Homo sapiens: one gene and its partners. The protein of the gene in region 1 purifies or fractionates together with the protein of each later gene. This does not show direct contact. Each region holds a gene or a part of one and is shown in the gene's direction. Other genes may lie near its edges. The genes, in order: UPK3B, DDX19B, SLC25A15 and AP1G2.

Region 1 (7,004 bases):
CTCTTTTCAATGCCAACCTGCCAGGTCCTTCCCCGCTTCCCAGGCCTTGCAGAGCTCCCAGCCCTGCAAAGAGACAAACCGAGGCCCTCTGCGGGGCTCCTGGTGCCCTGGGTCCTCAGGCTGCTGGTGATTGAGCCCCCTGCCCCCGGCTACTGCTGCCCCTCTGGGAGGCCTGTGACCCCTGCCCCATGTGCCCTGCTAAGCCACCTTCACCTGCTCTTTTGGCTTGTGACATTTAGGAACCAGGGCCCCTAAACCAGCATCCCCGGCCCAGGTCTGGTGTCTGGAGAGCAATTGCTCGGGGGGATGAGGGGTGGTGGCACAGGCCAAGTGGCTGGAGACATCTCAGGGGATTCTCAGAGCAGGGCCAGGCCATGGGCTGCTGCTCTTGACGGGCACCCCCACTCCACATCCATGGGAGGGCCCCAGAGGAGCTGCCTGGGGCTTGGCCCTGCCCAGGGTGGTCCCAGCCTCTGAAGCTCTCCCCTCCTCCCCCACCACCTCCCATCCCCAGGGTGAAGTTCCTCCTGATGGACACCAGGGGCTCACCCAGGGCTGAGACCAAGTGGTCAGACCCCATCACTCTCCACCAAGGTAGCGCTGGGCAGGAGGGGCGCTGCCCCCAGTGGACTCACGATCTCTCTGGGCCGCCTCTGCTGAGCTGGCCACACCCCTGCTCCCACAGGGCTGGGGGCCTGGAGGCCATGTCCAAGTCGGGCCCAGCCCCCAACAGAACCTCATGCTGGGGGAGTGGGGCACCCAGCCAGCCCCCTCGGCAGGGGCACCATCTCGGCCCATCCGCAAGCGTTTGCCACATTGTGGGCACAGACAGCCTCCCCCCTCCTGTAGGGAGTCAGCCTGTGTCAGCCCCTGCTGGGAGGGAGGAAGAGGGTGTGGAGGAGGTCAGGGTCAGGGTCGGGGCTGGCTGGGGAGGCAGCCAGCTTGAGTTCTGAGCAGACCCCAAGGGGCAAGCGTGAATGTACCAAGCCCAGAAGTTTCGAGTGCCACGGCCCAGGTGTCGGGGGTGGGGGTCTCCTGGGAGACGGCTTCAGAGGTCAGGGGGTGTGGGGTGGAAGTCTTGTCATCTGAAGGCCTTGACTGCTGGGCTCCAGGGAGCAGGGCAGTGGATGAGCACGTGGGTGGGAGCAGCCTAGAAGGTAGGAGCAGGGCGGAGGCTGTGGTCCAGGCTGGCAGAGAACAGATGCTGTGCCGTCCCGAGGAAGAGGGACGGGGGGTGGGATCAGGGGGGCGCCTGGGGATATGAGACAGCCAGACCTTGAAGCTAGGCCAGCGTGGGTGGGGAGGGAGCGAGGGAGGAGATGACAGCCAGCCCTGGGGTCGAGGGGCAGCCCCTCTGAGCAGCTGGTGTGTGTGCAGGGAAGACCCCCGGATCCATCGACACCTGGCCAGGGCGGCGAAGTGGCAGCATGATCGTCATTACCTCCATCCTCTCTTCTCTGGCCGGCCTCCTACTCTTGGCCTTCTTGGCAGCCTCTACCATGCGCTTGTGAGTGGGGACACCCCCTCGGGCCCCTCTCCCACCCAGAACCCCTCTGTTGAATTGGTCCCAGTGTCTGGAAGCCCTCCAGGCATGCCATGGGGTTTATTTTATTTTTGGTAGAGACAGGGACTTGCTATGTTGCCCAGGCTGGTCTGGAACTGCTGGGCTCAAGCGATCCTCCCGTCTCGGCCTCCCAAAGTATTAGGATTACAGGTGTGAGCCACCTTGCCGAGCCCCGTGGTTTCGAGCTGGGCAGCGCCCCTCCCAGGGCCTGTGCAGGGAACTCCCACCCTGAGTATCTCGCACCTCAGGGGTCATTGATGGGGCCAGCAGCCCCTCTGAGGACAGGTTCGGGAGGTCCCGCCTCACTCGGGCCCTGTCTTTTCAGTGTGTCCTCAGCCAAGGCCCTTCTCCTCCCGGGCCTCACCTGCTGTCTGTGGATCCTCTGGTGGTTTAGTAAGCTGACGCCAGGGTAGTCAGGGTGGCCACCTGGAGAGGTGGTCCTCCAATTGGTTCTAGAAGGGAGGAAGGAGGGATCAGAGACTGCAGGTGAGGCCGGGTGCAGTGGCACATGCCTGTAATCCTAGCACTTTGGGAGGCCGAGGTGGGAGGATCACTGGAGGCCAAAAGTTCAAGACCAGCCTGAGCAACATGGTGAAACCCCATCTCCACTAAAAATGCAAAAATTGTCCGGGTGTGGTGGCAGGCACCTGTAATCCCAGCTACTCGGGAGGCTGAGGCAGGAGAATCGTTTGAACCCGGGTGGCGAAGGTTACAGTGAGCTTAGATCACACCACCGCACTCCAGCCTGGGTGACAGAGCCAGACTCCATCTCAAAAAAAAAAAAAAAAAAAGAAAAGAGAGAGAGAGAGACTACACATGAGGGAGCTGGGAGGGAGGAGAGCAGGCCTTGACCCAGCACGTGCCCCATGTGGCAGGGACATATGTCTCTTCCTCCTCCTCTCCCCGCCCAGCTCCAGCCTGTGGTGGCCGGAGGAGGCCCCGGAGCAGCTGCGGATCGGCTCCTTCATGGGCAAGCGCTACATGACCCACCACATCCCACCCAGAGAGGCCGCCACACTGCCGGTGGGCTGCAAGCCTGGCCTGGACCCCCTCCCCAGCCTCAGCCCCTAGCCTGGCCTCTTTGCATGGGGCTGGGGGAGATGGGGCGCTGGGAGTGAGTGCATGGTGCTTTGTCCCAGCTCCTGCACCCACAGGCCCCCTCAGGGCTCCTTGCCTTTCCCCCCCACCAGCACACCCCGTACCCTGCCTGGAATCCCAGCACCAGCCCCCCTGCCTCTCCTCTGCCTTTCTGGTTTCTCTCCCTCTCCAAGCATCTGTAAGTTGCACTCAGGAGGGTTTAGGGGAGGGCCATGGGCAGGCTGGATACCCAGTCCCCACCTCCATCCCCACCTCTGTCTCACCTGACCTCCTGCGAGGGAGGCTGGAGACTGTGTGGACAGGCCGCCCTGACCGCAAGCTTCCAGACCCTGGGAGGAGGCCTGCAGAGGACTGTGCTTTGCCTGATGCAGGGAGCTGGGCCCATCCTGGGGCCTATGAGACCTGAGCCACCCTCCGTCCCCCATCCCACACATCAGTGGCTGGGCGGGGTGAGGATTCAGAGGCATCTCTACTGCCCCTGGGCACAGCACCTTTCTGAGAGTGGGACTCTCCATGGTCATCTGACTACCAATTCTGGCCACCACCTCCAACCCTCTTGTGCATATGGATGGCTCTAGCCCTTATCCACCCCCTCAAGCATTTATTAAGCATCTGCTGTATGCTACATACAGTGTTAGACTTGGGGCTTCAGGCATAGCCGGTCCTGACCTTGGGGAGATGCCTTCTCTAGACCTGAGACGACCACGTGTCCAGATGTGACCTGTTGCTGTCGGGGGTCTATCAGGCCCTTAGACCGTCACCCCAGTAGGCTCTCCAGGACCCAGGAGCCTCCATCACCTGGAAGGACCCTCTGTGCAAAACCTCAAGCGTCCATCTGTGCACAAGGCCGGTGGTTCCCGTCGTCGCCACTCGGGGTCGCCGGTGAGCCGCAGCCAGGCCGCCTCACGGCCAGTGTGCATGCTCGCTGCTATTCGCTGCCCCTTCTGCCTCCGAGGCGGTAGCAGATGCCACGTTGGCGGGGTCGGTGAAGGTCAGGACTCTAGGCCTCCCTCCGCCAAGCCAGAGGGATGAGCAATCACGCCTGAGAGCCCACTGCGTGCCATGCAGTCCGCACAGCCGCAGCGGTTTTCTAGATGGAGAAACTGAGGCTCAGTGACTTGCCCGCTGCACTCTGTCCACGGCCGCTGCACACGCCCCCTTGGGCTGCGCTCCCGGACCTTCTAATGTGACCACGGCTCCCGGCATGCAGGCCCTGCCAGCGGAGGGAGCCCGGTGGTGACCCTTGGTCTGCAGCCCTCTTTGGAGGTGAATAAATGCGGTCTGGAGCCCACCCTGGCCTGAATGGTGCCCCTGCTGGGACAGGAAATTTATGCCGGGAGCCCAGGGCCCTGCTCAGCTTCTGCCCCATGGGGTTACCCTGAGCCTGTCCCTTGATTGCTGTCCCGGCTTGTACTTTGAGGTGCCCCCATCTCCTAGGAAAATCCACACATGTGTTTCAGGGCCAGGTATGTGGTTTAGGTAGTGCTCCCTCCCAAGCAAGCCCTTGAGCCCCTCATCTCTGGAGGCTTCTCCTCCATGCTGCCTGCACCCCCACCAGCCACCAGAACCCCTTCAGGTATAGACAGAAACAGATTCAGTCAAATTCCTTGGTGTCCCAGGTGACGTCTGGCCAGGGGAGCCAGCCCCTTTAAGTTACACTATTGCATGGCTCACACCCGGAATCCTAGCACTTTGAGAGGCTCAGGCAGAAGGATTACTTGACCCCAGGAGTTCCAGACCAGCTGGGGCAACAACATAGTGAGACTCTATCTCTACTAAAAATGAAAAAAAAGATTAGCCAGGGGTGGTGGTGTGCACCTCTAGTCCCAGCTACTCGGGAGGCTGAGGCAGGAGGATCACCTGAGCCCAGGAGTTTAAGGCTGCAGTGAGCCGTGATCGTGCCACCGCACTCCAGCCTGGACAATAGAGTGAGACCCTGTCTTGAACGAACAGGCCAGGCGCAGTGGCTCACACCTGTAATCCCAGGACTTTGGGAGGCTGAGGTGGGCAGATCACTTAAGGTCAGGAGTTAGAGACCAGCCTGGCCAATGTGGCAAAACCCTGTCTCTACCAAAAATACAAAAATTAGCAGGGCATGGTGGTGGGGGCCTGGAATCCCAGCTACTCGGGAGGCTGAAGCAGGAGAATCACTTGAACCCAGAAGGTGGAGGTTGCAGTGAGCCAAGGTCTTGCCACTGCCCTCCAGTTTGGGTGACAGAGCAAGACTCCGTCTCCAAAACAAAACAAAACACACAAACAAACAAAAAAACCCCACCACGGTGGAGCCCAGGTCCCTCTGCCTGGAACTGAGAGAGAGTTAACAGACGGGCTTGGTGTCTCATGCCTGTAATCCCAACTTTGGGAGGCCAGGGCAGGCGGATTACTTGAGGTCAGGGGTTTGAGAGCAGCCTGGCCAACATGGTGAAACCCTGTCTCTGCTAAAAATACAAAAATTAGCCTGGTGTGGTGGTGGGTGCCTGTAATCTCAGCTACTTGGCAGGCTGAGGCAGGAGAATCACTTGAACCTGGGAAACGGAGGTTGCAGTGAGCCGAGATCGTGCCACTGCACTCCAGCTTGGACGACAGAGCGAGACTCCAACTCAAAAAAAAAAAAAAAAAAAAGATAGAGTTAAAAGACCACCTCCCTGTCAGTGACCCTTCAGCAGAGACTGTCTCACGCTGTTCTATCCAGACCCAAGACAGTTGGCTAGGGGCCCGGCCCCGGAGGGGTATGACAGGGAGAAGGAGGGGGCCGTTGGTGTTTGCTGTGTGAAAAGATGAATTAATCCTCCCAGGGTTCAAGGACCAGCTAGGAGCAGGATTGCCATGGCTTTTTTTTTTTTTTTTTAACGTGGAGTCTCACTCTGTTGCCCAGGCTGGAGTGCTGTGGCGTGATCTCTGCTCACCACAACCTCCACTTCCCAGGTTAAAGTGATTCTCGAGCCTTGGTCTCCTGAGTCGCTGGGATCACAGGTGCCTGCCACCACACCCAGCTAATTTTTGTACTTTCAATAGAGATGGGGTTTCGCCATGTTGGCCACAGGCTTTTGCATGTCCTGGGGCCCTTCTATGTTTGTTCTCACTGTCTGAATCCGTGCTGATGCCAGACGCAGCGCCAGGGACTTCCCATTCGAGCCTGCAGCTGCCCCTCCCTTCTGCACAGCCTCTCTGAGCCCACTGAGGAGCTGCCATCACCCTCAGGAGCCACCTGGAACTTGACTTTGGAAACACCCTCTAAACAGATCTTGGAACCTAGGGTGTAAAGACTGAATCATAGTCCAGGAGTCCAGGGGAGGCTACTGGCCCCCACTGAGAGCCAAGGGGGCTTCCTAGGGGTTCTTTCTTTCTTTTCTTTTTCTTTTTTCTTTTTTTTTTTTTTGAGACCGAGTTTTGTTCTTGTTGCCCAGGCTGGAGTGCAACAGTGCGATCTCAGGTCACTGCAACCTCTGCCTCCTGGGTTCAAGCAATTCTACTGCCTCAGCCTCTGGAGTAGCTGGGATTACAGGCGCCTGCCACTACACCCAGCTAATTTTTGTATTTTTAGTAGAGATGAAATTTCACCATGTTAGCCAGGCTGGTCTTGAACTCCTGACCTCAGGTGATCCATCTGCCTTGGCCTCCCAAAGTGCTGGGGTTACAGGTATGAGCCACCACGCCTGGTCCCTGGGGTTATTTCTGAGCTGACTCTTTTTTTCTTTTCTTTTCTTTTCTTTTGAGATCGAATCTTGCTCTGTTGCCCAGGCTGGAGTGCAGTGGCATGATCTTGGCTCACTGCAACCTCCACCTCCCGGGTTCAAGTGATTCTCCTGCCTGAGCCTCCCAAGTAGCTGGGATTACAGGCGCCTGCCATCATGCCTGGCTAATTTTTTTGTATTTTTAGTAGAGACAGGATTTCACCATGCTGGCCAGGCTGGTCTTAAATTCCTGAGTTCAACAGATCCTCCCACCTCAGCCTCCCAAAGTGCTGGGATTACAGGTGACAGCCACCATGCCCGGCCTTGAGCTGAATTTTGAAGGGCAAATGGAAGAAGGAGGCCGAGGCAGGAGGATCTCTTGAGCCTAAGAGTTCAAGACCAGCCTGGGCAACACAGCAAGACCCCATCTCTAAAAAGTTTTTTTAAAAAGAGGGAAGAAGGAGAGAGGAGGAGAGAGAGCTACTCAGAGAGACCAGGGGTGTATACGGTCCTGTTCTGCAGTGGCACCCATGGTGGCCAAGGGGTGGTAGCAGGGATTGTGGGCTGGGAAGAACCAGATCTGAACCAGGGCAGACACAGAGGATTGGAGAGGAAGAGTTGGATTCCAGAAATATGCAGGAGGTGGCCGCAGGAATTGGGAGATAAGG
Region 2 (7,033 bases), on another chromosome or scaffold:
AATCTCAGTCTGGTACTGGTAAAACAGCTGCCTTCGTGCTGGCCATGCTTAGCCAAGTAGAACCTGCAAACAAATACCCCCAGGTAAGGATTTATGAATTTAGGTTTTCTACTAATGCATAGATAGAAGGGGATTTCCATTTGATGGATTAAAAGACAAGCTATGGGCTGGGTGCAGTGGCTCATGCCTGTAATCCCAGCACTTTGGGAGGCCGAGGTGGGCGGATCACCTGAGGTCAGGAGTTCTAGACCAGCCTGGCCAACATGGTGAAACCCTGTCTCTACTAAAAATAAAAAATTAGCTGGGCCTGGTGGCATGTGCCTGTAATCCCAGCTACTTGGGAAACTGAGGCAAGAGAATCATTTGAACCCGGGAGGCGGAGGTTGCAGTGAGCTGAGATCGCACCATTGCACTCCAGCCTGGGCAAAAAGAACGAAACTCTGTCTCAAAAAAATAAAATAAAAGCCAAGCTATGCATTACTTTTTACACAAACTGAAACTCCTTAAATTGAGCACAAATAATACGGGATATCTTCCAATGGCAATAAAAATCCTGTTTCCTTTTTCCATGGTGTGCCAGTTCTGGGATGCTTCTTACAGGCTTGGCTCCTTTACTTGCAGGAAAACCTGTTTCATCAGCAACTGCCATCCATTAGAAAGTTCTGAGAGCTTTCTGAGTAAACGAAAAGAAAGCTAATGCCAATTGGAACTTTAGATCCTTGCTCATGGGTGGGTTTTTGTATTGCAGTGGCCAGTATCTGTTTTCAAGTGTCTTTACCCAGCCAGAGTTCTGACCCCTAAGAATTCTAGCTTATGACTCTGTAGCTTAAAGAATCAAATGGTGTACATTTTAATGTACATATTCTTTCCTTCAGCTTCAGCTGGAGGAGTGGCTAAGTACTAATGGTAATTCCCCTTTGCAAAAGAGCTATTGTCTTGAATTTGCACTCTGCATTCTTTTCCTGCCAGTGTCTATGTCTCTCCCCAACGTATGAGCTCGCCCTCCAAACAGGAAAAGTGATTGAACAAATGGGCAAATTTTACCCTGAACTGAAGCTAGCTTATGCTGTTCGAGGCAATAAATGTGAGTATGTGAATTTGGTCCTAAATCATCAACCTAATTCTTTTTATTTTGAAATATTTCAAAACCCACCCAATAGTTGAAATAATACAATAAACACATGTATGTTCTCCAGCTAGATTCAAAAACTTAACATTTTGCCATATTTGCTTTACATAAATGTATACATTTTTGTCAAACCATTTGAAAGTAAACTGCAGACATGCACCTCATGAGGACATTCTTTGCCATACCTATGGATACCCTTTTATCACAACCAGGAAAATTAACAGATTTCCTAGAATAACTAATACCAGTCCATTTTTATTCCTCCCCAGCTGTTCCCAAAGTCTTCCTTTATAGCTGTTTGGTTTTTCGACCAAGATCAAGTTAGCGTTTATACGTTGCGTTTGGTTGTTGTACTTGTTTCTTTCAATCTAGAATTGTACCCCTACCTTTTTCTCTCCCTATTATATTTAACATTTTGCACAGACCAGACTAGTTGCTTTTCAAATATTCTACATTCTGGCCGGGCGCGGTGGCTCACGCCTGTAATCCCAGCCCTTTGGGAGGCCGAGGCGGGCAGCAGATCACGAGATCAGGAGATTGAGACCATCCTAGCTATCATGGTGAAACCCCGTATCTAATAAAAATACAAAAAAATTAGCCAGGCGTGGTGGCGGGCACCTGTAGTCCCAGCTACTTGCGAGGCTGAGGCAGGAGAATGGTGTGAACCTGGGAGGCAGAGCTAGCAGTGAGCTGAAATAGCGCCACTGCACTCGAGCCTGGGCGACAGAGCGAGACTCCGTCTCAAAACAAGCAAACAAACAAAAAACAAACAAACAAAAATTCTACATTCTAGATTTGTTTATTTTTATTTATTTATTTTAGAAACAGAGTCTTGCTCTGTCACTCAGGCTGGAGTACAGTGGCATGATCTTGGCTCACTGCAACCTCTGCCCTCCGGGTTCAAGTGATTCTCCTGCCTCAGACTCCCAAGTAGCTGGGATTACAGGTGCCTGCCACCATGGCTGGCTAATTTTGTATTTTTAGTACAGATGGGGTTTCACCACGTTGGCCAGGCTGGTCTCAAACTCTTGACCTCAGGTTATCCATCTGCCTCGGCCTCCCAAAGTGCTGAGATTATAGGTGTGAGCCACTGTGCCCAGACTTCTTTCTTTTTTTTTTGAGAGAGAGTCTCGCCCTGTCGCCCAGGCTGGAGAGCAGTGGCACAGTCTTGGCTCACTGCAAGCTCTGCCTCTGGGGTTCACACCATTCTCCTGCCTCAGCCTCCTGAGTAGCTGGGACTACAGGCGCCCACCACTACGCCCAGCTAATTTTTTGTATTTTTAGTAGAGACGGGGTTTCACTGTGTTAGCCAGGATGGTCTCTATCTGCTGACCTCGTGATCCTCCCGCCTTGGCCTCCCAAAGTGCTGGGATTACAGGCGTGAGCCACTGCGCCTGGCCGCCTTCTTTTTTTTATTTTGAGACAGTTTCGCTAGGTCACCTAGGCTGGAGTTCTGACTCCAGGCACGAGCCACCGTGCCTGGCCACACCCAGCTAATTTTCTAAAAATTTTTTTTGTAGGCCAAACATGGTGGCTCATGCCTGTAATCCCAGCACTTTAGCAGGCCGAGGTGGGTGGATCACGAGGTCAGGAGATAGAGACCATCCTGGCCAACATGGTGAAACCCCATCTCTACTAAACATAGAAAAATTAGCCAGGTGTGGTGGCATGTGCCTGTCGTCCCAGCTACTCAGGAGGCTGAGGCAGGAGAATCACTTGAACCCGGGAGGTGGAGGTTGCAGTGAGCCAAGATCGTGCCACTGCACTCCAGCCTGGGCGATAGAGCAAGACTCTGTCTCAAAACAAAACAAACAAAAAAAAACAAACAAATTTTTTTTTTTTTTGTAAAGACAGTGTCTTGCTATGTTGCCCAAGCTGGTCTAGAACTCCAAGTCTCAAGCAATCCTCCTGCCTCGTCCCCTCAAAGTGATGGGATTACAGGTGTGAGCCACTAGGCCAGGACTGAATTTGTTTAATTGCCTAATTTATTTATCTTCATTAGCAGAATAAAAACCCAGAATGTTTATGGCTATTGACTCTGGGGCTTATTCTGTTAATTATTTTTTGTTACTAATTTTTTCTACACTAGTTTGTTTTACAGTTAATATTATTTAAGTAATTTTAAAAGTGTTGTTGGCCGGACATGATGGCTCATACCTGTAATCTCAGCACTTTGGGAGCCTAAGGTGGGTGGATCATTGTAAGGTTAGGAGTTCGAGACCAGCCTGACCAACATGATGAAACCCAGTCTCTACTAAAAATACAAAAATATTAGCTGGGCATGGTGGTGCACACCTGTAATCCCAGCTACTCAGGAGGCTGAGGCAGGAGAATTGCTTGAACCCGGGAGGGGGAGGTTGCAGTGAGCCGAGATTGCACCACTGTACTCCAGCCTGGGCGACAGAATGAGATTCTGTCTCAAAAAAAAAAAAGTGTTAGAGGTTTGGTTGAGTTTTATGGATCTCTGAAACAAATGTGACCTTATGAAAATCAAGTCTGCATACAGTGTCCTAATGCCAACTTGAGGCCAGTTCTGAAAAGTAAATAATACAGTGAAACTTATTGGGAGATAATCATTTAAAATTTTGCAATTTGTATTCGAATTAGAAGGGTAGAGAATTCTGAATTTTTTTTTTTTTTTTTTTTTTGAGACAGAGTCTCAGTCTGTCTCCGGGCTGGAGTGCAGTGGCGCGATCTCGGCTCACTGCAACCTCCGCCTCCTGGGTTCAAGCGATTCTCCTGCCCCAGCCTCCCAAATAGCTGAGATTACATGAGCCCACCACCACACCCAGCTAATTTTTGTATTTTTAGTAGAGATGGGGTTTCGCCATGTTGGCCAGGCTGGTCTCGAACTCCTGACCTCAGGTGATCCGCCTGCCTCAGCCTTCCAAAATGCTGGGATTACAGGCATGAGCCACCGTGCCCGGCCCTTTTAGTTATTTTTAAATGTACAATATATTGTTGACTGTAGTCACCACATTGTGCTATCAAATGCTAGATCTTACTTATTTTAATTGTATTTTTGTACCCATTACCTTTTCAGCATTTTTGTCTGTTTTTATGTCCATTAAATGCTATAGTGATATCCTAACCTTTCCTTAATATATTAATGCAAACAGCAAAACATTTGCATTAAAATATATAATAGGTTTAGAATTTCTCAGAGAGAAGAGCTGGCTTTGCCTTTGAAATACCCATGGAGGCCGGGCACGGTGGCTCATGCCTGTAATCCCAGCACTTTGGGAGGCCGAGGCAGGTGGATCACCAGGTCAGGAGTTCAAGACCAGCCTGGCCAAGAGAGTGAAACCCACCTCTACTAAAAATACAAAAAAAAAAAAAATTAGCCAGGTGCAGTGGCAGGTGCCTGTAATCCTAGATACTTGGGAGGCTGAGGCAGGAGAATCGCTTGAACCTGGGCGGCAGAGGTTGCAGTGAGTCGAGATCATGCCATTGCACTCCAGCCTGGGCAACAGAGTGAGACTCTGTCTCAAAAAAAAAAAAAAAAAAAAAGAAAGAAAGAAATACCCACACATGGAAAACATCTTGGGGTCTCCACAGTGGAAAGAGGCCAGAAGATCAGTGAGCAGATTGTCATTGGCACCCCTGGGACTGTGCTGGACTGGTGCTCCAAGCTCAAGTTCATTGATCCCAAGAAAATCAAGGTGTTTGTTCTGGATGAGGCTGATGTCATGATAGCCACTCAGGGCCACCAAGATCAGAGCATCCGCATCCAGAGGTAGGGATCTCGAGGGTGGGGGACTCCTCAGATTCCCCATCTGCAGTGTCTTCTCCCTTCACTTCAGATGCCTCCTCTGGCTTCTGCCTGGGTCTTGGCTCTCGTACTCTCAGCAGCATTTGTTTGACGGGCCACTTCCGTGTCAGCGCTGGCCACAGTCCCTCCCAGCCTGGGTTGAGAAAGGAGACCTAGGGACTCTCCCCCAACCCCTGTCCCCATCCCAGGCCTGCTGCTCCTCCTCCCCAAGACGCTCCTCTCCCATCAGCCTTCCTGGGCATCTAGACCCTCCCAGCTGGGAAGGCTGTGCTTCTGTCGCTTCCCGGGGCCACCTGGGGCCACCTACCAGGGCCTTCCCTTGCAGGATGCTGCCCAGGAACTGCCAGATGCTGCTTTTCTCCGCCACCTTTGAAGACTCTGTGTGGAAGTTTGCCCAGAAAGTGGTCCCAGACCCAAACGTTATCAAACTGAAGCGTGAGGAAGAGACCCTGGACACCATCAAGCAGTACTATGTCCTGTGCAGCAGCAGAGACGAGAAGTTCCAGGCCTTGTGTAACCTCTACGGGGCCATCACCATTGCTCAAGCCATGATCTTCTGCCATGTGAGTAGCAGTGGCAGTGGCAGGCCTGGCCCTTCCCTCTCAGCCAGCTCCCCACAGGGCTCAGGAGGACTGGATGCCCCTGGGTGCCATGGGAAGAAACGAAGTGGTTTGTTCTCCTAAGGTTTTAGTGAGTCGTAAGAGGGAGACTTTGATTCCACTTCTTAGTGATTACTTGGAGAAAACCCCAAGTAACAGCCAATGAAATAATTTTTAGATTTTTAAGAATATAAGCTGGGCGGCTGGCACGGTGGCTCATGCCTGTAATCCCTGCACTTTGGGAGGCCAAGGCGGGTGGATCACCTGAGGTCAGGAGACCAAGACCAGCCTGGCCAACATGGTGAAACCCCATCTCTACTAAAAATACAAAAAATTAGCCGTGCGTGGTGGTGTGCACCTGTAATCCCAGCTACTCAGGAGGCTGAAGCAGGAGAATCGCTTGAACCCGGGAGGTGGAGGTTGCAGTGAGCTGTGATTGCTCCATTGCACTCCAGCCTGGGTAACAAGAGCGAAACTCTGTCTCAATACAAAAACAAACAAACAAACAAAAAACCAACAACAAAAAAAGAGTATAAGCTGGGCAAGTACCTGTAGTCCCAGCTACTCAAGAGGCTGAGGTTGGAGGATCGCTTGAGCCCAGGAGTTCAGACCAGCATGGGCAACATAGTGAGACCTCATCATTAAAAATATATATATGGCTGGGCACAGTGGCTCACGCCTGTAATCCCAGCCTTTTGAGAGGCTGAGGTGGGGGGATCTTCTTGAGCCCAGGAGTTCAAGACCAGCTTGCACAACATAGCAAGACCCCATCTCTACAAAAATTTTAAAAATTAGCCAGGCGTGGTGGTGCATGCCTGTGGTCCCAGCTGCTTGGGAGGCTCAGATGGGAGGATTGATTGAGCCCAGGAGGTTGAGACTGCAGTGAGCTGTGACTGTGCACTCCAGAGTGGGCAAGAGAATGAGATCCTGTCTCAAAAAATTTAAATTTAAAATAAAATTTTAAAATATATATGTTGTTTGTTTGTTTTTGAGATAAGGTCTTGCTCTATCATTCAGGCCAGAATACAGTGGCATGGTCATAGCTCACTGCAGCCTTGGCTCTTGTTACTAGGGCTACAGGTATGTGCCCCATGCATGTCAGCCTAATTTTTATTTTTATTTTTGTAGAGGTGGGGTCTTGCTATGTTGTCCAGGCTGGTCTCAAACTCCTGGCCTCAAGCAATCTTCCAGCCTCAGCCTCCCAAAGCCTAAGACTACAGGCACGAGCCACCATATCTGGCAAGAACATAGACTATTTAGGAATGAAGATCTTTGGCTAAAGCCACACTCTTCCTAGATACAAAAGTAACAGCAGTTACATAACTTATCTAAAAAGAAAAAAATCATATGACTAAAATTCTATTTGAAAGAAAAATTTTTTTTTGAGATGGGTTCTTGCCATGTTGTGCAGGCCAGCCTCGAACACTTGGGCTCAAGTGTGTAGCTTGGACTACAGGTGTGTACTACCATGCTTCATTGAGAAATTTTAAGCCTAACCTCCTAACTGGATTTAGCAGGGCCTTCATGTATTTT
Region 3 (7,033 bases), on another chromosome or scaffold:
TTCACTTCAAGCCTGGCAGTCTTCAGAGCCCTTGTTGTGCAAAAATAACACCATAGCATCTCCTGGGAAACACCACTTACTGTCCCTGCTAGTGTTGGGAAAGAAAGGAGGACACTCTTAGAAATGTCTTTAAAAGGCTGGGCGCAGTGGCTCACGCCTGTAATCCCAGCACTTTAGGAGGCCAAGGCGGGCAGATCACCTGAGGTGAGGAGTTCAAGACCAGCTTGACCAACATGGAGAAACCCCGTCTCTTCTAAAAATACAAAATTATCCAGGCGTGGTGGTGCATGCCTGTAATCTTAGCTACTTGGGAGGCTGAGGCAGGAGAATCGCTTGAACCCCGGAGGCGGAGGTTGTGGTGAGCCAAGATCGCGCCATTGCACTCCAGCCTGGGCAACAACAGTGAAACTCTGTCTCAAAAAAAAAAAAAAAAGACATGTCTCTGAAAATGAGACTGATAATGGACTGTGTCTTAGAGCCGTGAAAGTTGTAGGATTTGCTGGGAATGTCAGCTAACCTGAGCCTAGGGGCCTGAGCCCAAGAGCCTGAGGCTCCCCCAGCACAGGGAGGTGCTACCTGTGATAAGGGGTAGTGCTGGCACCATGCAGGCTACTCCTTAGAAAGATCAGCTTGAACATGCAGGAAGAGCAGGACCCTCAGGCTGGGAAACAGGGCGGAATGGGAAGTGCATGGTGGTAATTTGGTTCTCCAGAGTCCAGAAGTAGGAGGAGTGGCTGGAATACTGATTGCCCAAAGGAAAACCCTGGACTACCCTGGGCTCCCGCAGGATTCTCATAGTAGTTGCAGCTCCCTGGAGTGGGGAGGCCAGCGGGGGTGTTGCCCAGTGCTGTCCTTATCCAGCACACCCCCCACCCCCACCACCAGCAGATGAGTATGGTCATGAATATGGTCACCTCATCAGTCATTTGCTCAATTGTGAAAAAGAAATTGTTCAGAGAAGAGCAAAGTGTTTTTCCATGAGCCAAAGGTCAGCCAGGGTATGCTAATGAGGAAGACTGGAGAGAGCGCGTCACCGTCACCGAGCCTAATGAGGAGCACTGGGCAAGGGCACTTCTCCCAGGGCAGAACCCACAAGGAGCGTCCCAGCCCCAGATGCCCAGGGAACGGAAGGCCAGTGGGGGTCTGCCCAGTAGTCTCTTGCCCACTGCGTGCCTTTAGGCTACAGCCTCCCAAGCCCCTTTCCCCCTCCCCTCCCCCATGCCACACTGGGGAGGACGCTGACCCTGAGAATGGTGCAAACATCTGCCTGCCCCAGGCCGCCTCTCACCAGCGAGTGAATGCTCTTGGGCTCAGTTCTGTTTCTGCAGAAGGAGGGTGTTTAGCCACATATAGTCTCAGCTTTTGACATTTTATGTCTTTCAGTCAATCTGTCAAAGATCTAGAACCTATGGTGATAGAATTTAAAAGTTTACCTTTTCCTATTTATGTGCATACAGGTATTTGGGTACCACATTTATAATTTACAAGTTAGTTTGAAAGATAGAAATTGCAACAGTATGGTTGGGAGCCTGGTATGTAAGGCATTTGCTGGTGGGCATGTTTTGAACATGTATTGATCCCTTATGTATACTGACACACTGTCCCCATCACTGTTGGACAGGTATTTCCCCCTGTGCTGGCGACACAGGGACGCCCCTCACCGAGGTAGAGATGCTGTGGGTAGTCTTAACTTCTGAGGACAACGAAGCCCATTCCTGGGGGGACAGGATAGGGAGGGGGAGCGAGACATGGTCTATAGGTTGGGGGCTGGGCAGAGGAGGTGCCTAGCAGTGACACAGAAACCTCTGTTCTGCTGTGAGGCCTATGGAATGCAAATGGAACCCACTTTTGAGGATCTTGGAGTCTTGGAGTGCTGGAGCTAGAGAGACCTTTAGACATTGTTGGCTCCAATGCTCGTTGGATATGTAGAAAAAGGCCCACAGAGGAGCAGTAGATTTGTTCAAGGTTACACAGCAAGATGGTGTGAAGACAGGGCAGGACTGTGATCCCTGGGTCCCTTGTCTGGTGTCGTTGCTGTCTCTGCTTTAGTACTCCGTAATGCATCTGCAGCACACTGGAGGGGAGGGTTAGTTTGGAGCCTTTGGGCCCTGCCTTTCTGGATGTGGAACTTGCTGGGCTTTGGGAATTTTCTGCCAGCCATTGATAGGAGCAGAGGACCTGTTGTGTTTTGTGGCAGAGGTCACCCACGGAAGCGATCCATCTGTAAGCACAGAGCCAGCTGCAGCCCGAGGTGATGTGGATGGAGCTTAAATGTGGTGTTGTGTGTGTCTCTTCTTTTCCTTTAAACAACGTTTTCCCCACCACACAGGTTTTTAGCCAGCTTATCTACTCTAAAGTGCTGGGAAGTTCCCATTTCCCTATCTGCAATGGCTGTAAGACATCTAGATCCCTAAACAGCTAGGATAAAGGAGGATTTCAAGAACTTAGGTGATTAGGTAATTATTGAAATGGGGGTGCGTGGATCCCAAAAGTTAAATAGCCTTAAAGAGAAACTTGGTACCACTTTAATAGTCATTCAGCAACTCTAAAACAATGCAGTCACTACTTTGACTACTGTTGCAGTTTACCTTGTTTAGCATAGTTGGAGAATGTGGCATTTCAGATCATTGAAGTTTATCTTCTCAAATGCCAAAATTAAAAACAACCCCAAACCTTTTTTGATTGGAGTTTCTTGAAAATGATATTCTTCCCTGCCCTGTTAAACCTTTACGATGGCCTCCAGAGGGGTTTGAGGGTCTCACCTCTGCTTGGTGGGCCTGGTCCTGTGGTGTGAGTCTGCTTCTCTCTCCTCACCTCTCTGCCTTCTTCAGAGCTGTCCCTTCCCTGAGACACTGTCCCTGCCCTGATAGATTTCCTCTGTATCTCGTGATTTACTGACTCTATGTCAAGGACTGAAAATCCAAACCACCACCCTTAGTAAAGTGTTAGGTATGACATAATCTGAGTGCCTTTCCTGCGGAATAAGATGCTTGGCTGGCCACCATATCGCCGAAAGAATGTTGTTATTTGTCTTTTAAGGAGAATAAGATCAGAAGTCTGATTTCTAGGCAAGTGGAGAAATATAATATTTATTCATGGCTTTATGGACTTGATCGATCTTTGAGAACCTACTAGGTGTCAGTCTCTGTGGTTGGTACTGGTGTTCAGAACAGTCTTCTCTCACTTGAGGGCACAGTGAGCGCCGTGACCATATCATTTGTGGTAAATTACACGGGAAGTTAGCTTACCCTTGCAGAGGACGGGAGACAGTTGTTGCTAGCATTTGTACATTCATTAGCCTCCCCCTTCTCCCTGTTGGAAATGTAACTGTCCCAGCTACACAGCAAATGTGTATTCTAGTAACCTGTGATGCCTGAACTGTTCAAGATGATCAAGTTAAAATATGAATGTGCTGAATTAAATGCTTTATTCAGCTTATCTGCATCTAGGCTCTCTGAATTACGCACCCACTTAAAACATTCTGTCACCTTTTCTCTTGGAATAATTAAATTATTTTAATGTAATTCAGATTTCTTTTTATCCTAGCCCAGCATTACCTGGGAGAGAATGACTCAGGATTAATCATAATAAAATCATATTAAATTATATTCCACTAATTCAGAATTGGGGATAATTTGGCAATTAAAGGCGGAAGTGTGTCATTCCTCTCCTGTAAGAAATGAACAGTAATGATGGGCTCACAGAGATCATATTGCTTGTTGCTTAAAAAAGAGATCAAGCAGTTTTCAGACTCTGGAATTGTTGGCTTATTTGCCAATAAATAATTGAGAATTATTCTTAATGTCCCTTCCCCCAACTCCACTTTCCAGAGTTTAGATGGAATAACTGTGTATAACATCAAATTCAGGAAGTTGCATTTCTTAAATATTTTCTGTAAGCCTTCTTTTGCATTTTGATGAAGCTTTAAGAGCTCCTCTCAGGTCCAGAAGGAGACGGTAAACACTAACCACTGGCAGTTCCCACGACGCCAACCCTACTACAGGGTGTGGGGATGTTGTAGGGTGGTTACAGTTCATTCTTCTCTTCTGTTTAGAATTTTTACTAAAATGATTTCACGTGGCTGGGCATGGTGGCTTATGCCTCCCAGCATTTTGGGAGGCCAAGGCAGGAGGATCATTTGAGGCCAGGAGTTAGAGACCACCCTGGCCAACATGGTGAAACCCCATCTCTATGAAAAGTACAAAAATTAGCCAGGCGTGGTGGTGGGTGCCTGTAATCCCAGCTACTTGGGAAGCTGAGGCACAGGAATTCCTTGAACCTGGGAGGTGGAGTTTGCAGTGAGCTGAGATTGCACCACTGCACTCCAGCCTGGGTGACAGAGCAAGACACCATCTCAAAAAAAAAAAAAAAATTATTTTGTGCAATGTAGACTCTGCTGTATTTAATCTTATAGAAGTATATAAATAAAGGATTTAAGCATAAATAAATTTCAGTTCATTCTCTATTTACATACACGTTATTAATCGGTAGAGCTCAAATTAAAGAGGTTTTTCTATAGAATGAAATATTTAGCTCTTTGGGGATTAATTAGCCAGACTCCTTGTTTCCTTTCCGTGGTGCCGGGTCTGATCAGTCCCACTGGGCATTAGGCAAAGTGAGCGATGAAGTCTTCCCAGGTCTCCCCTCCCTTTCTGTGGTTTCCGTTTCTTGTGCACACAGTAGCTGCTGTTTACTGATTACGTAGCCGGTGCTGTGCCAAGCCTGTCTCCTCCATTTTTATTTAATCCTCACGCTAACCCTGTGAGGTGGCATGGATGAGGAGCTGAGGCTCAGAAGTTACATGGCTTGTCCAGGATCTCACAGCAAAGCCATAGTCCCTCTGACCCTATTGCCCAGGCTCCTACATATTCACTGCACTGTTTGCCGCTGTTGAACACATGTCTGTCTCTCTCCCCTGCCTGGCATGAGCTCCTTCAGGGTGGGACTTAGATGCCAGGCACATCAAGGACCTGCTCTAAATTGTTTACTGGACATGGCTGGAAGGTTTTGGAGGAAAAGAGGTTGAAATGAACCGAAGCAGGGGTAAGTTCTGGGGTAGGCTGCCTGTGCCTTCCTTCCATGGATAATGGAACTGTAGCCTCGTACTAGAGCAGTCATCTGTCCTGATTGCAGGAGGTACAGCATGTGTACTGACCGGGCAGCCCTTTGACACAATGAAAGTGAAGATGCAGACGTTCCCTGACCTGTACCGGGGCCTCACCGACTGCTGCCTGAAGACTTACTCCCAGGTGGGCTTCCGTGGCTTCTACAAGGGTACCAGTCCAGCACTAATCGCCAACATCGCTGAGAACTCAGTCCTCTTCATGTGCTACGGCTTCTGCCAGCAGGTGGTGCGGAAAGTGGCTGGATTGGACAAGCAGGCAAAGCTGAGGTGAGTCAAGGACACACACTTTTTTTATTTGTTTAAAAAAACCCCACAAAACTGGCAAGACATGGTGGCTCATGCCTGTAATCCCAGCACTTTGGGAGGCAAAGGCAGGAAAATGGCTTGAGGCTGAGAGTTCAAAACCAGCCTGGGCAACACAGCAAGATCCTCATCTCTACAAAAAAATAAAAATTAAAAAAAATCTACTGTTGTATGGTCACAATTTTACTGGTGCCTTATGTGGAAGAACATTTCCTTTTTTAAAAATAACTGCTTTCCTTTTATTTATGAAGTTATACATTGTCATCATATAAAACTTAGAAACCACATATGCACACCACAGAGGAGACCTGCTCATCATCCACCACTGAGAATGAACCGCCCTTCTGTTTCAGTTTTCTCCAGGAGAATGCTGTTCAGATGCAGCTGGCAGTGCTACCTCTCGTCAGCAGACATGCTGCACTGAAACTGTAGATGCTGCTTATGATCCAAGATTTAGCTTTTCTTTCATTAGCAAAAAGCAGAGTATTGGAAGAGGTTGTCTGAGCCAGATGAACTTGAGGAGTTTTAGGAAGGGTCGGAAATGTCTGCGAAGATGCAAGGGAACCCACCTTTCTCTGTCCAAATCTTCCCAAAACATCAGACTTTGCCTCTTTGTTGGTCTTGCCTTGGGTATTTATTATATAGAGACTAAACAGAATTTGGAAACCACTGGGATGTTTAGCTATCCCTGCTTTGAATGTTGATTTATTTTATACCACTTAAAATTATTATATAAGCTTCAAGATTGCAAAGGGCAGTCTTAGTTATTTCAGTAGGAGTTTGAAACCTGATTGCAGCTGCAGGTCCCACACAACTGAATTCGGTTTCTTGTGCACAGCACTGTTCTCTGGAGGTGCCTGGAGGTCTGAAGGTGTGCCCTTTTATAGACAGGAATTCCACCATGATGGGTAGAGCTTGTTTTTTAAAAAGGCTTGGGACTAGATACGATTGCCCAAGAAGACAGTGTAGACAGCGAGGAGGGCTGAGCATGAATGGGATGAGCCTCCAGCACAGAAAGGGCAGGCAGGAAGGCAGTAAAGAAACAAGCAGGGCACAAACCAGGAGAGTATGGCATGCCATGATGGAGACTGAACAGAAGCAAAAACTACAGGCAACTGTAGTTTTGTTCCCTGTTGAAGGAGAGACACTCTATTAGAGAAGACCTGGAATTCAGTTCAGTTTCCTTAGCAAAGGACAAAATGGGGAGAGAAGACAGGGAAACAGTAAGCAGCCACGTGAGATTCTGGGGAAGACCTGTGTCTTCTGAGCAAAGTAGCCCCTCCAGCCACAGGATAGACAGTGACTTCTGTCTTGCATGAGTGAAACCACTGGATCTGGCTCTGCCCGCCCCTCCACTTTCTTGCTTCCTTAGCCTGTGAACAAAGTGAAGGACAGGTAAGAGCATATTGCTTTTCTGCTGAGAACAATCTAATACCTTACAGCTGCATTTTCCCACACTGCTTTCAGAACATTGAATTGCTGGGTGTCCTTAAGAAAGGGTTGGGAAATTACGTCACAGTGTCTCTCTCGTGAAGAATCACTCTGGGTACATTTATTTCATATAGTGTATGTGTTATTTAGTTCATTAAAGATGCGTAAGGCTGG
Region 4 (7,833 bases), on another chromosome or scaffold:
TCGACTGTCACTGGGAAGGGGGCAGGATAGGAATGGAATTACACAGTTCCAGGAGGGCCTGGCCCTTGCAACTGGAAGAAGTGTTACTACAGGACGTAGCAGTAGAAGGGTGTGAGAGGAGCAGGAGGGTGTGATGGTGGCAAACACAGCCCAGGTCAGGGGGAGGAAACCAAACGGGAGCTGCCCTGGCCTGCCAGGAAGGGAAGCAGCTGGCAGAGTGTGGCGAAGGGTGACGACTCCAGAGGAGAGGAGGATGTGATGTAGAGGGGACAGGGGCTAGGGGGCTGGAGCATCTGAGCAGGGACTAACTTGAAGTGGGGGAAGTTCTGCTAAATCCCTGTCTCTGGACCCGACAGGGCAGCAGACGCCCTCCTAAAGGCAGTGGCAGCCAGCAGTGTCGCTGAGAAGGCCGTGGAGGCAGCTCGAATGGCCAAACTGATAGCCCAGGACCTGCAGCCCATGCTAGAGGCCCCAGGTGAGGCATGGACAGCTGGGGGGAGGGCAGTGAGGCCCCTAGGGAGCTAGAGAGGCTCAGGTGTGGGGAAACAGATGAGAAGCCCTGCAAGGGAAGTGGGGATGGGAAAAAACAAGGAATGAGGGTGCAAGGAACACAGGGTGGGGGCCAGACCTGGTAGTCTGGGGAGTGGGACTTGGGAATGTATGCAGTAGGATAATGGGGGGTTTGGGGTCTGGCGGTGAGAGGCTATGAGCCTGGGAATTCCAAAGTCCTGGGAAGTGCCCAGTCAGGAATAAAGCTGCAGCCACTCCAGCCCAAGGCCAGTTAGGCCCCTCTGATTCTCAGCTATCCCTACCCAGGCCGCAGACCCAGGCAGGACTCAGAAGGTTCCGACACGGAGCCCCTGGATGAGGACAGCCCTGGGGTATATGAGAACGGACTGACCCCCTCAGAGGGATCCCCTGAACTGCCCAGCAGTCCTGCCTCCTCCCGCCAACCCTGGCGACCCCCTGCCTGCCGGAGCCCACTGCCTCCTGGAGGGGACCAGGGTCCCTTCTCCAGCCCCAAAGCTTGGCCTGAGGAGTGGGGGGGGGCAGGCGCACAGGCAGAGGAACTAGCTGGCTATGAGGCTGAGGATGAGGCTGGGATGCAAGGGCCAGGGCCCAGAGACGGTTCCCCACTCCTCGGAGGCTGCAGCGACAGTTCAGGAAGTCTTCGAGAGGAGGAGGGGGAGGATGAAGAGCCCCTGCCCCCGCTGAGGGCCCCAGCAGGCACGGAGCCTGAGCCCATCGCCATGCTGGTCCTGAGGGGCTCGTCCTCGAGGGGTCCTGATGCTGGGTGCCTGACAGAAGAGCTCGGGGAGCCCGCTGCAACCGAGAGGCCTGCCCAGCCGGTGAGATCCTCTGTCCCTGCTGTGTGCCCTCTTCTCCCAAAGCCTTGCCTCCCACCCTTTCCAGAACTGTCTGATCACCGGGGGGGCTTTTTATCTCACTCGGCTTCCTCTGCCTGGCCAGTCTTGGACCACATCCCACCTCAAAAAAATAGAGGGCGTTCGAGCTGGAAGGAACCTTACACACCTGCAAGCCCAACTCCCTCATTTGACAGATGGGGGAACTGAGGCCCAGAGCACTTAAAGTAACTTGCCCAGGCCGGGCGCGGTGGCTCACGCCTGTAATCCCAACACTTTGGGAGGCCGAAGTGGGCGGATCACGAGGTCAGGAGATCGAGACCATCCTGGCTAATACAGTGAAACCCCGTCTCTACTAAAAATACAAAAAAAATTTAGCCGGGCGTGGTGGCGGGCGCCTGTAGTCCCAGCTACTTGGGAGGCTGAGGCAGGAGAATGGCGTGAACCCGGGAGGCGGAGCCTGCAGTGAGCTGAGATCGCGCCACTGCACTCTAGCCTGGGTGACAGAGCGAGACTCTGTCTCAAAAAAAAAAAAAAAAAAAAAAGTAACTTGCCCAGGGTTGTAAACTAATAATTAATGGGAGAGCCAGAACATTTTTCCCCCGTTCTCCTTCCATATCATTTCCAGCTCTCAGTTTCCTACTCCACCCCCACCCCCACCTCCGCACTTTCTCTCTTTGGTGCCCAGAAATAAAAAAGGAAAAGATTGTTCCCTCCCTACCCTGACTCTCCCTCCCTCTCCCGGGAAGAAGTTGAAATAGAGAAGAAGGCAGAAAACCGGGAGAGGCGGAGTTTGCCCAGAACCCTCTACTCTGATTGGGCTCTAGGCCTTCTGTTTCCTAGCAACCACATCCTCACCCCTTCATCCCTCTGCCTTACTGCAGTACTGGCTGCTGCTGCCAATGTCTGCTACTAAGGCCAGGCACCTCCTGCCTGGGACACATGATATGCTGATGGGAGGGGACTAGAGGGAGGAGGTGGAAGGGCTGTCCCTGCATTGAAGGTGTCAGAGGAAAGGTGGGGCCCTGCCTGGGAGAAGAGGGGGTTTTGCAATCCAAAACAAATGTTGGCGATCCCCCTGCTCCAGGCTGTGCAGGGAGGTGCCTGAGACCCTTCAGCTCTGCCACCTCAGTCAGGGCAGGAAGGTGGGCCCTGTCCTCGGGGACTGAGTCTGCTTCCCCCTCTGTCTCTCTAGGGAGCTGCCAACCCCCTGGTGGTGGGAGCCGTGGCCCTCCTGGACCTCAGCCTGGCATTCCTGTTCTCCCAGCTCCTCACCTGAGGCTACTTCCTGGCCTGGTTCTGGCTTTGGTTGCGTGCCTCTTCACCCCTTTGACCTGCCTTTTTTCTCTTCTCCTCTTCCTGGCTGTGTTTTCTCCTATCTTTCTTTCTCTTCTTCCTTTCTTTTCTGTGCTCCTTTGTTTTTTTCTCTCGCTTTTTCTTTCCCTGTCTTCTTTCAGATTATCTCATTTCTTCTGGATCTGTCTCTGTATTCCTCACTCCCTTCCCCATCCCAACCCCTTCTTTCTCTAGATTGTTTACATATGAAGGGCTTTTCTCTCTCAGAGTTGCTGTCTTCTCTGAGACACACAAATCTAAGTCAGACCATTGCTCCACGCCCTCCCACCTTTTCTTTAGACCTCAACTTCGCTGCGGGTGGGGGTTTGGTGTCCTAAGGAGACTCCTGGAAGCTGAATGGAGAGGAGGAAGAAAATGAAGAAGGAGTGATTGAATGTCGGGCAAGGCACTGGCTGAGCTGCTGTGGCTCCCTAGCCTAAGGGGCCTGCTGTCCCTCTGAGGCCTAGTGAAAAAGCTGCAGGAGGTGCATCCTCCACCTCTAATCTTGGAGGCTATTATCTTACCTCCAAGCACTGAGCTGGGTTACTGCCCAATTCCATCCTTCCCTGAAGGAGAGAAGGGAAGTGAAAAGTAGAGTAACTCCCCAGCATTTCCCTCTTTTTCTCCTCATCGGCCAGCCCCTCCTCCAGCCCCCTCTGGTGGCATGCCATGCCAAGAGCAACGTGTAAAGGAACAGAGAATATCCAATGCAGTCAAGTCCACCCTGCCCAGACTTTGCCACTGACTTCTCCCACCCTTCTGTCTCCCCCATAATAGTTTATTTGGTTGGTCTGGACTCACTTGTGGCCTTTGATTAAATTCCTAAGGGGCCTGAAGAAGACATTTCTACTGCAGAGGGTTAGAGGCACTTGAGCAAGGCCCCCACATCCCAACTCTGGGAGTTGTGGTGGGAGGAGGCACTTCTGGGGGATAGGACCAGACAAGATAACAGGAGCTCACATGGAAGCAGAAGCTGTGACAAGTTTAGTAGTCCCAAAATGGGTTATATCCCTTCCCCCTTTACATCAGAATCTTGTGAAATGGGAAAACAACAGAAGGAGGGGATCAAAGATAGCTGATCTCACATGCTTCCCAGGCAGGGCAGAGGTGGGAGTCAAACCCGGGTGACAGGTGGGTGGAGAGCCCTGTTTGAGGTTGTGGCTGATCCCTCTCTGGTATTAGTTTTTCCCCTGGGAGCAGGAAGCCCTAGGAAGAGGGGACTGCAGGGTCCCCAGGGGATCTTTCCTCCCTCCCCTGCATGAGGCAGAGGCAAGCTGCCTGCCAACCCCCTCCCTCAAGGAATGGCCTTGCCCAGGAATGCCCACCACACATACCCTCTTCTTTTTTTCTAGTCAAACTCTTGTTTATTCCTTGGCTTGCCTCCCTCCTTCCTCCCCTCTCAACCTTTACTTCTGATTTCTATTTCATGGAATTTGGGATTGAAGTTAAACTACAACAGTGCCGCCAACACCAAGTCTTGCAGGAAAAAAATACAAAGAAATTTAACAAAAAAAATATATTAATAAAAAAGTTCAAAAAAGGGGGGGGATTGTCATCTCCTTTGGGGTGCGATGGCTTCAAATCCAAACTGAGGCTCTCCGGGTGGTAAGGATGTGCGAGGAGGCCTCTTGAAGAACTCCAGGCCTATCATGCTGTCTCTCCGCTAAAGCCTGAGGCCCGAGGTCAGAGGATTCAGGAAGGCTCTGCAGTCGGCCCAGGAGGGCGGGGTCCCGTGGTGGAGGCGGGGAGAGGGAAGGACCGCACGGAGCACCAACCCCTGCTCGGCCCCGTACCAGGAAGCGCTGGGGGGCAGAGGAGCGGAGTTGAGGCAGAAGCCAGGTGAGGCTGGAGTCCTGGGGTAGGCAGGCTGTCGCTGCCGCTGCCGCTGCCTGAGATGGAAATCGGGGGAGGAAGCTCGCGGAAGAAACAGCGGAGGGTCGTGGAAAAAAAAGCAATGGCTGAGCTAGGGATGGGGTACCAGGTAGGGGGAGGAAACGGTAGAGAGAAATAGGTGGGGCTCCCGCGCATGCTCAATAGGAAGGGGCGCCGGTGGGGTGCGGACGCATGCGTAGTGGGCTTCTCGGGCGGTGGGGTGGGCGCGGAATTTGGAGACCCACTTCGGGAAAGGTAAAATGCGGGCGCAATTTTAGGGTACCTGTGGGACCCGGGCTCTTAGGGTCTTGACACAGGACGGGCCTGGGCCGAAAGCCCAGGCACGCCCGACCAGAGAGTGTTTCTCCACTCCCGGACTCTGCCAGTCAGGATGGTGGTGCCTTCGCTGAAGCTTCAGGACCTCATCGAAGAGATTCGCGGGGCCAAGACTCAGGCCCAGGAGCGGGAGGTGATCCAAAAGGAGTGTGCCCACATCCGGGCCTCCTTCCGCGACGGGGACCCAGTGCACAGGCACCGGCAGCTGGCCAAACTGCTCTACGTCCACATGTTGGGCTACCCCGCCCACTTTGGACAGGTACTGGCCAGGAATACCTCCCTCCTGAGCTTGATGAAGGCTAGTGGGGCAGAGTCCCAGACTCTCTCACCTGTTTATGCCCTGGTTTTTTAAATTCTACAATTTCAGAGTCTTCACAGCCTGCACTGCAAACCTCTTTCCCCATTGCTACCCCTACTGGTCATCAGCTGGCCTGAACCCTTCATTCTCTGGCCAGCCTCCTTTAGGGCAGGCATCTCCTCCTCTCCGCTCCCATCCTCCTCAACTCCTAGTTCCTCCTACCCACTAACGCCTGAATTTCCTAAGCTTCTCCTCTTGTTGAAGGGAGAGTGATGAGATATGATGCCCCACAGGTTAATCTGGTTTTAAAGAGGAAGATGGAACAGGGATGTGAGTGTCTATGGTTTCACCCCTGCCTCTTCCTGGTCTGCCCCCTTCACTATAGATGGAGTGCCTGAAACTGATCGCCTCCTCCAGATTCACAGACAAGAGGGTGGGCTACCTGGGGGCCATGCTTCTATTGGATGAGAGGCACGATGCCCACCTGCTCATTACCAACAGCATCAAGAAGTGAGAGGGTTCTGGCAATCACTTGGAATCAGGGAGATGGGAGAGTAGGGACCTTGGAAATCCCAGGGGACTGCCTGTTGTGGGTATTGAAAAGGACTGATTTTCTCAGAGGTTTGACTGACCGTCCTCCCAAACCCTGCAGTGACCTGAGCCAGGGGATTCAGCCAGTACAAGGCCTGGCCTTGTGCACTTTGAGCACCATGGGCTCTGCTGAGATGTGCCGAGACCTGGCCCCAGAGGTGGAGAAACTGCTCCTGCAGCCCAGTCCCTACGTGCGCAAGAAGGTGAGATGGCGGGACTCCTGGCACGTGCTCCTGCACACTGCCTGCTGCGTGCTATATAGTAGTAGATGCAGGGGTCCATCTCCTCTGACCCCTGTCTGAGGCCCCTGACCTCTGCAGGCTATTCTGACTGCAGTGCACATGATCCGGAAGGTCCCTGAACTCTCCAGTGTCTTCCTCCCACCCTGTGCCCAACTGCTTCATGAGCGTCACCATGGTAAGGCTGTGGGGCCCCCCATCCTTTGCTTCAGGTCTATGGACAGAAGAATTGAAAATCGGATGGGAACCCCAGCTCACAGGAGAAGGGTAGTGCACACACACAGGCACACACGCAATAGACTCTCTTGCCCCTGGCCCCCACCATTCACTTCCCCGACGCTGACCCCAGGCATCCTGCTGGGCACCATCACGCTGATCACGGAGCTCTGCGAACGAAGCCCTGCAGCCCTCAGGCACTTCCGAAAGGTGGGCTGGTGAAGGGGCAGGCCCTGGGCCTGGAAGACAGGGTCAGTGGGGAAGGAATGGGGCTTTAGCTGGAGAGGATTAGAACGAATGCCCAAAGTTGTGCCCTCCCTCCAGGTGGTACCCCAGCTGGTACACATCCTCCGGACTCTGGTGACAATGGGATACTCCACAGAACACAGCATATCTGGAGTCAGCGACCCCTTCCTGCAGGTGGGGTGACCTTTCACTGCTGTATCCCTGGATCAGAGAGGGCATAGCAGTAAGACCATGACCAGTGGTTTCCTCCCAGAGAACACTGGTTCTCTCAGTGTCCTGGGCAGCAGAGTAGCAGGCACAGGATTGCTCGGGTCATCCCAGGACCTGTGAGGGGAGAGGGAATGCCTAAAAGTCAGGAAAATACAGTTTGTTAACAATTTTTTTTTTAAGCCTGTCCTAAACTCCCCTGGCCTCACACACCTCTGTTCCCCTCCTAGGACCAAGGGACCTGTGGAGGTGAGGAGGTGGGGGAAGGCTCTAGGGAGCGAGCCAGACCCTCACATGTTGGAGTTTTCTCCTCAGCCCCACGACTCCTTATCCTATGAACCCCTCCAACTTTCCATTTTCAACCCAACCTCAGGTCCAGATACTTCGTCTGCTTCGGATCCTGGGCCGGAACCACGAGGAGAGCAGTGAGACCATGAATGACTTGCTGGCCCAGGTGGGGCCTGGGAGGGCACTGGTTAGCTGTGTTGCTTGGAGACCCCATCAGCCCTGGGTGCCCCTCACATGACTCGTCACTGTGCAGTGGCCGTGTAATTGCCTCTCCATCTCCTCTAGACAGTGAACTCCATGAAGAAGGGACACAGTCTGTCTTAGTGCTATTGCCCCAGTGCCCAGGCTGGCCCTGGCACATAGTAGAGCCTCAGGGAACTTTGTTGGATGGTTGAAGGATGGACAGATAACATGTTGGAGTCCTTCAAGAATCCTGAGGATTACCTGGGCTTGTTGGCATGTGCCTGTAGTCCCAGCCACTCAGGAGGCTGAGGCAGGAGGATCATCAGAGCCTGGGAGGTCAAGGCTGCAGTGAGCTTTGGGCGACAGAGTGAGACCCTGTATCAAAAAAAGGAGACCTGAGGAGGGCCTTGAGCAGATACATCTCCTCTCTCATCCACTCAGGTGGCCACTAACACGGACACCAGCCGAAATGCCGGAAATGCGGTCCTGTTTGAGACAGTACTCACCATCATGGATATCCGCTCTGCAGCTGGCCTACGGGTATCACCCCTTATGCCTCTCCCACTACGGCCCCGCCCACCACCTCACCCACACAGGTCCTGCTTGCTGGTTTCTCCCTCCTAGCCCCATCATCTTGCGCCAATGTGTTCCCAGTCCT

Evidence for each region.
Region 2: the proteins of UPK3B (region 1) and DDX19B purify together in Homo sapiens (affinity purification with mass spectrometry; one large-scale study listed by BioGRID and IntAct). This does not show direct contact.
Region 3: the proteins of UPK3B (region 1) and SLC25A15 purify together in Homo sapiens (affinity purification with mass spectrometry; one large-scale study listed by BioGRID and IntAct). This does not show direct contact.
Region 4: the proteins of UPK3B (region 1) and AP1G2 purify together in Homo sapiens (co-immunoprecipitation; 2 studies listed by BioGRID and IntAct, with this or other methods). This does not show direct contact.

The regions. Positions count from the first base shown.
Region 1 is NC_000007.14:76,512,570-76,519,573, forward strand, and holds the end of UPK3B (uroplakin-3b isoform d precursor), read left to right. Parts: intron 1-514; coding exon 515-594; intron 595-1,377; coding exon 1,378-1,507; intron 1,508-2,475; coding exon 2,476-2,635; 3' UTR 2,636-3,953; downstream 3,954-7,004. UniProt on the Homo sapiens protein: Component of the asymmetric unit membrane (AUM); a highly specialized biomembrane elaborated by terminally differentiated urothelial cells. May play an important role in AUM-cytoskeleton interaction in terminally differentiated urothelial cells.
Region 2 is NC_000016.10:70,324,605-70,331,637, forward strand, and holds part of DDX19B (ATP-dependent RNA helicase DDX19B), read left to right. Parts: coding exon 1-83; intron 84-969; coding exon 970-1,084; intron 1,085-4,687; coding exon 4,688-4,865; intron 4,866-5,226; coding exon 5,227-5,464; intron 5,465-7,033. UniProt on the Homo sapiens protein: ATP-dependent RNA helicase involved in mRNA export from the nucleus.
Region 3 is NC_000013.11:40,793,924-40,800,956, forward strand, and holds part of SLC25A15 (mitochondrial ornithine transporter 1), read left to right. Parts: intron 1-3,061; exon of another isoform or gene 3,062-5,133; coding exon 5,134-5,392; exon of another isoform or gene 5,393-6,801; intron 6,802-7,033.
Region 4 is NC_000014.9:23,564,444-23,572,276, reverse strand, and holds the start of AP1G2 (AP-1 complex subunit gamma-like 2), read left to right. Parts: upstream 1-4,485; 5' UTR 4,486-4,538; exon of another isoform or gene 4,539-4,725; coding exon of another isoform or gene 4,726-4,826; exon of another isoform or gene 4,827-4,957; 5' UTR 4,958-4,961; coding exon of another isoform or gene 4,962-4,962; coding exon 4,963-5,166; exon of another isoform or gene 5,167-5,590; coding exon 5,591-5,715; coding exon of another isoform or gene 5,716-5,857; coding exon 5,858-5,999; exon of another isoform or gene 6,000-6,116; coding exon 6,117-6,213; coding exon of another isoform or gene 6,214-6,384; coding exon 6,385-6,461; exon of another isoform or gene 6,462-6,575; coding exon 6,576-6,671; exon of another isoform or gene 6,672-6,821; intron 6,822-7,077; coding exon 7,078-7,158; intron 7,159-7,436; exon of another isoform or gene 7,437-7,550; intron 7,551-7,616; coding exon 7,617-7,715; intron 7,716-7,833. Other genes in the region: JPH4 (junctophilin-4), read left to right, coding at 357-475, 817-1,349, 2,560-2,643.